Homo sapiens: one gene and its partner. The protein of the gene in region 1 interacts with the protein of each later gene in a biochemical or structural test. Each region holds a gene or a part of one and is shown in the gene's direction. Other genes may lie near its edges. The genes, in order: KRT6B and UBE3A.

Region 1 (4,403 bases):
ACAATATTTTTATGTTTTGTACATATGAATACATGAAATATTTTATATACATAAAACACACTCAAACACATACACACAAAACATTCATGTATTTATTTATATACCTTTCTACAATGCAGGCTCCCTCTCTATATATGCCAACTCCCTCCACCTCTTCCTCACCCATACAAACACACGTTGACACAAACACATATGCACAGACATGTCACCCATGGCCCAGGAAAAGCACAGGAAAATATCCAAGTAAAGATACAAGGATACACAAGGAACTGCTAACATTACTTCCTCCATAGATAGGAATTGGGTAACTGGGGAATGGCCTTGAGCTATATTATTTTGTTGTTTAGCATGTTTTACAAAAAATTTTTTAAAACATGTATCATGTATTCAATTTGTAAACATGTAAATAATTGTGCAAATAGTACTATTCAAAATTTAAATGGGCAATCTACTACATTTACTTCTAGAATGTTTAAATATAGACAGAATCTTAATAAGCTTCTAATTTTAATATGAAATATGAAGGTTAGAGTCTCATATTAAAGGAAACAATAGGGGTATGCAATTAGAAAAATCCCAAGAATGAAAAAGTACAATGAACAGTTAACCTGTTTTATTTAACAAATAAAAGTAAGAAATGAAGGGAGATTTTTAAATTTCAATGATTTAAAGGATATATCACTCAAATACAACGTTTATAGAGCTTATTTTGACTCTGATTGGGACACCAAAATATAAGAAATATATATCAAAAATAGGACTGCTTGAAGACTAAATAGACACTTGTTCATTTTAATTAGTATGTAAATTTTTAAGATATAAAAATAGTGTTTTGATTTTTTAAAGGACCTATTATTTAGATATTAATATTGAATTATTGATTGAAGACATAATATGACTTCTGGAATTTCCTTTCAAACAATCTAGAATGGAAGAGGAAATAGGGTTGAAGTATGAAAGAAATCAGGCTGGCCATGAGATGATCATCATGGAAGCAGGTGACAGGTATATACAGGCCCATTGCAGTGTTCTGCTTCTCTACCTGTTTAAAATTGCACCTAAAAGGTGAAACAATTATGGGGAAATTGTAATATTTCTGTTAAGGAATTCACAATACAGTGCCTGTGATCTCCAACAGCAAGGCTGGAAGAAAGTCAGACTGGGAAGAGGAGGGCACTCAGGGCATGTCGATAAACAGCCTAGCATGCAGAACCTTTGCTGAAGACAGTGACTAATTCCAACTTCATGAATTGAGAATACTCTTATTGTGCTGAGATCTCAAGTCAAAGCTGGAGGCAGGAACATTTTGCCTGACTAAAGGAAGCGAAAAATGCAATCTCGGTATTTCATAACTTTTGTAATAATGCAGGTGTGATCTCACTATTTGTAAAGCCCAGCCCTTCCCAACCTGCAAGCTCACCTTCCAGGACTGGGCCCAGCCCATGCTCTCCATATATAAGCTGCTACTGGAGTCCGATTCCTCGTCCTGCTTCTCCTCCCTCTCGCCTCCAGCCTCTCACACTCTCCTAAGCCCTCTCATCTCCTGGAACCATGGCCAGCACATCCACCACCATCAGGAGCCACAGCAGCAGCCGCCGGGGTTTCAGTGCCAACTCAGCCAGGCTCCCTGGGGTCAGCCGCTCTGGCTTCAGCAGCATCTCCGTGTCCCGCTCCAGGGGCAGTGGTGGCCTGGGTGGCGCATGTGGAGGAGCTGGCTTTGGCAGCCGCAGTCTGTATGGCCTGGGGGGCTCCAAGAGGATCTCCATTGGAGGGGGCAGCTGTGCCATCAGTGGCGGCTATGGCAGCAGAGCCGGAGGCAGCTATGGCTTTGGTGGCGCCGGGAGTGGATTTGGTTTCGGTGGTGGAGCCGGCATTGGCTTTGGTCTGGGTGGTGGAGCCGGCCTTGCTGGTGGCTTTGGGGGCCCTGGCTTCCCTGTGTGCCCCCCTGGAGGCATCCAAGAGGTCACTGTCAACCAGAGTCTCCTGACTCCCCTCAACCTGCAAATTGACCCCGCCATCCAGCGGGTGCGGGCCGAGGAGCGTGAGCAGATCAAGACCCTCAACAACAAGTTTGCCTCCTTCATCGACAAGGTGAGCCAGTGCCATGCCCTCCATCGGGCACTTCAGGGTCCCCAGACCAGAAGAGCAACACCTTCCTGCCGGAGAGACCCTAGGAGGGAGGGAGAAGGGGACTCAGCCCAGCTCTGCAGAGAGTGCAGGTGGCTCTCGGTGCACAGGAGGCAGCACAGATGGGCATCACTCCCCCATGGGATATCTGGAGTGGCCCTCACTCCTGCCTAGGGAGAGCCATAACTTTTCATAACCCTGAAGCACAGATGAGGCCATCAGAGAGTGGAGTAGGTTAATTCTCCCCTCTGAAGTGTTTAAGAGATTACAAAGCAAATGCCAGGAGTATATGGGCTGGTAAATTACACTCTGGGGTCTGGGTAAGAGGAAAAAGATTTAGAAAGAAAAGGAAAAGATAATCTGGCTGGATTAAGAAAAAAAGGGACATAGAAACAACTGTAAAACATGGATAAATGCTAATTAATTTTAAAAACAGAGAATGACCATAACATCAGAATATTTGAGAGGAGACACTAAATGGGAAAGTAGACTGAAATGTAATCATGAGTCAACATCTAATATCCCTCCTAACTAAGATCCTCTCGGTAAAAAAAACTGTGTACAATATATCAGGTAATTAGTATTTTTAAACTAGATTTGTGATTGTGCTTGGAAAAAGAAAAGAAGAAATGTTGAAACTCACTGATGATCAATAGCTTACAGTGCGAGAACACCTCAGTGGTCCGTGGGACAATTTCTCTAGTGAGACTGGTGGGGTGCAAAGGAGAAGGAGTTGGGGGAGCAGAGCTCAGCCTGAGCCTCTCTACATGCACTGTAGTAGCCCAGCACCATGGGGACCTCCCAGACCTCCAGGAAACTGGATACCAGACACTTTCTCTGCCTTCCTTTTCCTGGAAAATGACCATTTTGCTTCCCCTCCAGGTGCGGTTCCTAGAGCAGCAGAACAAGGTTCTGGACACCAAGTGGACCCTGCTGCAGGAGCAGGGCACCAAGACTGTGAGGCAGAACCTGGAGCCGTTGTTCGAGCAGTACATCAACAACCTCAGGAGGCAGCTGGACAACATCGTGGGGGAACGGGGTCGTCTGGACTCGGAGCTGAGAAACATGCAGGACCTGGTGGAGGACCTCAAGAACAAGTGAGGACTCCATTTCCTGCAGCACACACTTCAAGACTATTGGGTGACCAGGGCCAGATGTGTGTAGGATTCCTAACAACCCATGTCCATGGAAATGAAAAGCACAAATTAGTCCCTAGGAGCAAACCTGCAAGAACCACAGATGGTTATGGGAGGATGGGGAGATTAAAGAAATGGCAAATTTAGTAGTAGCAAAATTCATCTCTTTGGCTCTCTGTGGCAGGAAAGCTCAATTAGAATATATTCCATTCAGGAAAATGTTGAATCCCAAGCTGCTTTTCTGTTTCATCCTACCCACTGGCTCAAATGTGTCCCATGCCTTTCTTCCTGTAGATATGAGGATGAAATCAACAAGCGCACAGCAGCAGAGAATGAATTTGTGACTCTGAAGAAGGTGAGCAGATGAAGCCAGGGGTTCAAATTCATTTAGAAGGAGAGAAGTGGCTCTGTGTCCTCGCTCCCCTGGGAGAGGAGAATTGGCAGGAGGACTAGAAGATGGGTAGATTGGAAAGGTGAGCTCAGGCAACTCCAGGTTGTTGGCTCTTTCCCCAGGATGTGGATGCTGCCTACATGAACAAGGTTGAACTGCAAGCCAAGGCAGACACTCTTACAGATGAGATCAACTTCCTGAGAGCCTTGTATGATGCAGTAAGCAACTCCACCATCCTTCTGTTTACTCTGATGGGGTCTGCAAAGGGGAGAAGATGTACAGGGCTGGGCATCTCTGTAAATGTCAGAAGTGAAGTTGATCTTATGACCTTCTGTTCTGCAGGAGCTGTCCCAGATGCAGACCCACATCTCAGACACATCCGTGGTGCTATCCATGGACAACAACCGCAACCTGGACCTGGACAGCATCATCGCTGAGGTCAAGGCCCAATATGAGGAGATTGCTCAGAGGAGCAGGGCTGAGGCTGAGTCCTGGTACCAGACAAAGGTGAGCACGGAGTGGACAGCCGCTGAGGAATCCTTGTGTCCATCCCTGAATACCAGAGGACTGCAGACTTCACTGGGGACATCCCCTGACAGGAAGCTGGGGTCCTCTCACAGGACATGCACTCTGCACTATTAGAGTAGACATTTGCGGAACTTATGCCCAAGTCAAGGAGGAAAAACAACCCAATGCAGGAGGCAAGCTACGATAGACAAGGACATAGTCATCTGTGCTTTTAGCTTCAC
Region 2 (3,823 bases), on another chromosome or scaffold:
TAAATGCTAGAGTCCACTTTTCTAAATCTTGGATATAAGTTGGTATGAAAGCACACAGTTGGGCACTAAAGCCCCTTTTAGAGAAAGAGGACATGAAGCAGGAGATAGTTAATAGCTAAGTGTGGTTGTAGTATAAAGCAAGAAGCAGGGTGTTTCTTGTATTAAGCTGTAAGCAGGAACCTCATGATTAAGGTCTTTATCACAGAACAAATAAAAATTACATTTAATTTACACATGTATATCCTGTTTGTGATAAAAATACATTTCTGAAAAGTATACTTTACGTCAGATTTGGGTTTCTATTGACTAAAATGTGTTCATCGGGAATGGGAATAACCCAGAACATAACAAGCAAAAAATTATGACAAATATATAGTATACCTTTAAGAAACATGTTTATATTGATATAATTTTTTGATTAAATATTATACACACTAAGGGTACAAAGCACATTTTCCTTTTATGATTTGATACAGTAGTTTATGTGTCAGTCAGTACTTCCACATTTTTGCTGAACTGGATACAGTAGGCAGCTTACCAAATATTCTATGGTAGAAAACTTGGGACTTCCTGGTTTGCTTAAATCAAATATATTGTACTCTCTTAAAACGGTTGGCATTTATAAATAGATGGATACATGGTTTAAATGTGTCTGTTTACATACCTAGTTGAGAGAACCTAAAGAATTTTCTGCGTCTCCAGCATTTATATTCAGTTCTGTTTAATACATTATCGAAATTGACATTTATAAGTATGACAGTTTTGTGTATATGGCCTTTTCATAGCTTAATATTGGCTGTAACAGAGAATTGTGAAATTGTAAGAAGTAGTTTTCTTTGTAGGTGTAAAATTGAATTTTTAAGAATATTCTTGACAGTTTTATGTATATGGCCTTTTCATAGCTTAATATTGGCTATAACAGAGAATTGTGAAATTGTTAAGAAGTAGGTGTAAAATTGAATTTTTAAGAATATTCTTGAATGTTTTTTTCTTGGAAAAATTAAAAAGCTATGCAGCCCAATAACTTGTGTTTTGTTTGCATAGCATATTATAAGAAGTTCTTGTGATTAATGTTTTCTACAGGAATTTGTCAATCTTTATTCTGACTACATTCTCAATAAATCAGTAGAAAAACAGTTCAAGGCTTTTCGGAGAGGTTTTCATATGGTGACCAATGAATCTCCCTTAAAGTACTTATTCAGACCAGAAGAAATTGAATTGCTTATATGTGGAAGCCGGGTAAGAAAGCAGGTGTCTGCAAAAAGTCATGTATCGATTTATTGTTTGTAATGATACAGTAGTATAGCAGATAACTAAGACATATTTTCTTGAATTTGCAGAATCTAGATTTCCAAGCACTAGAAGAAACTACAGAATATGACGGTGGCTATACCAGGGACTCTGTTCTGATTAGGTGAGGTACTTAGTTCTTCAGAGGAAGATTTGATTCACCAAAGGGGTGTGTGATTTTGCTTCAGACCTTTATCTCTAGGTACTAATTCCCAAATAAGCAAACTCACAAATTGTCATCTATATACTTAGATTTGTATTTGTAATATAATCACCATTTTTCAGAGCTAATCTTGTGATTTATTTCATGAATGAAGTGTTGTTATATATAAGTCTCATGTAATCTCCTGCATTTGGCGTATGGATTATCTAGTATTCCTCACTGGTTAGAGTATGCTTACTGCTGGTTAGAAGATAATTAAAATAAGGCTACCATGTCTGCAATTTTTCCTTTCTTTTGAACTCTGCATTTGTGAACTGTTACATGGCTTCCCAGGATCAAGCACTTTTTGAGTGAAATGGTAGTCTTTTATTTAATTCTTAAGATAATATGTCCAGATACATACTAGTATTTCCATTTTACACCCTAAAAAACTAAGCCCTGAATTCTCACAGAAAGATGTAGAGGTTCCCAGTTCTATCTGCTTTTAAGCAAATGCCCTTACTACTCTACTGTCTACTTCTGTGTACTACATCATCCAATTCTGAAAGACATAGGCTTCCCCATCCCCTGCTAAGACTGGTTCAAGTGGCAGCTACTGATGGATTGCAGTGAGAAGGCATGCAAACACGTACCTTCCTGGAAGTTGTCTCCAAAGGCTATTGCTCTAAGACTCAAGTATATAAACACTAGAATGAATATCAACTCTATCTAGCAATAAATGTTATTTTTATATTACAGTTGACCCTTGAACAACACAGCTGTGAACTTCATGGGCCCTCTGACATGCAGATTTTTTTTCTCAACTAAGAGCAGATTCAGTATTGGTGGGACTCAGAACCTGCATATACAGAGGGCTGACTTTCATACATGCCAGTTTCACAGGGCCAACTGCAGAACTTGAGCGTGCATGGATTTTGGTATACACACGTGGTCCTGGAACCAATCCCTGTCACATATACCAAGGGATGGCTGTATGTTACTTTATATTCATTTGTTCTGTTATTTTATAAGGTTGTTCGTCGTGGTATGTGGGAATTCACCAGTATTTCTTCTTTCTGGTGCACCGTTGGTCATTTCTGGCAGCAGTGGTGAATGTATTTACTCTTAGCAACCTCTGTGCTGCTACCTGTTCTGAGTTTCAAAGGTGATTCATTAAAGGGTTGGGATAACATGGTGATAGGAAAAACCCCCCTCATCAGTCACAAGGAGTATAACAGCAATATCTCTGTAATATGATTGATCATAGATATAATTTCTAGTAGGAAAAAAAGTCATATCTTGATGCATCTCTGAGAATAGTTGAACATATCTTGTGCTATTCTTTATAGAGAAATTATCTTTGAAATTAAAGTCTTAATTTTACTTCTAGCTTTTTATAACAACATAATCCCTACTTGGTATGTATCTTAAGATCATTTTTAAATGTATGATTTGAAGGGCAAACTAGTGTTATGTGAAAAATGACAGATAAAGTAGCTTCCAACTCATCCTCAAGAGTTGATGATATTCTAAACCTTTTCTAACTAAATTCAGCTTCTTAATTTTCTCAATATAAATATGATGAAAATATTAATTCATTAAATAGTCTACAAGTATTCGGTAGTTGAAGACTTAAAGTAGTGCTTGTAATAACAGAAGAGAAAAAAGACATTACAGGCGTATCTCACTTTATTGCACTTTGCAGATACTGAGTTTTTTTGGTGGCAACCCTGCATCAAGCAGGTCTACCAGCACCATTTTTCCAACAAAATGTGCTCACTTCATTAGCATTTTTAGCAATGATTTTAAATTAAGATAATGTACTTATTTTTAGACAATGCTGTTACACACTTGACTACAGTATAATGTAAACGTAACTTTTATAAGCACTGGGAAACAAAAAAATTTGTGTGACTCACTTTACTGCCATAATCACTTTATTTGCCATGGTCTGAAACTGAACCGGCAGTATCTCTGGGGTATGCCTGTATAGATATTTTGGTTGGTATTTATTTATTGTATGCAGAATTCATAAAAATAAAAACTGCGAGGCTGTTTAATACATTTCAACTAAAAGTTGCCAGCATCATTAATATGTAAACCACTAGAAATAAGATTTTGTTAATTTTTTGTTTGTTTGTTTAAACAGTCTTGCTCTGTCACTGAGGCTGGAGTGCAGTGGCGCAGTCTCAGTTCACTGCAACCTCCGCTTCCTGGGTTCAAGTGATTCTCCTGCCTCAGCCTCCTGAGTAGCTGGGGTTACAGGTGCACACCACTACACCTGGCTAATGTTTGTATTTTTAGTAGAGATAAGGGTTTTGCCATGTTGGCCAGGCTGGTCTCAAACTCCTGACCTCTGGTGATCCGCCCGCCTCGGCCTCCCAAAGTGCT

The links.
Region 2: the proteins of KRT6B (region 1) and UBE3A form a complex in vitro, tested with the Homo sapiens proteins (one large-scale study listed by BioGRID).

Annotation. Positions count from the first base shown.
Region 1 is NC_000012.12:52,449,227-52,453,629, reverse strand, and holds the start of KRT6B (keratin, type II cytoskeletal 6B), read left to right. Parts: upstream 1-1,483; 5' UTR 1,484-1,551; coding exon 1,552-2,091; intron 2,092-3,009; coding exon 3,010-3,224; intron 3,225-3,557; coding exon 3,558-3,618; intron 3,619-3,776; coding exon 3,777-3,872; intron 3,873-3,996; coding exon 3,997-4,161; intron 4,162-4,403.
Region 2 is NC_000015.10:25,351,944-25,355,766, reverse strand, and holds part of UBE3A (ubiquitin-protein ligase E3A), read left to right. Parts: intron 1-1,083; coding exon 1,084-1,239; intron 1,240-1,340; coding exon 1,341-1,414; intron 1,415-3,823. UniProt on the Homo sapiens protein: E3 ubiquitin-protein ligase which accepts ubiquitin from an E2 ubiquitin-conjugating enzyme in the form of a thioester and transfers it to its substrates.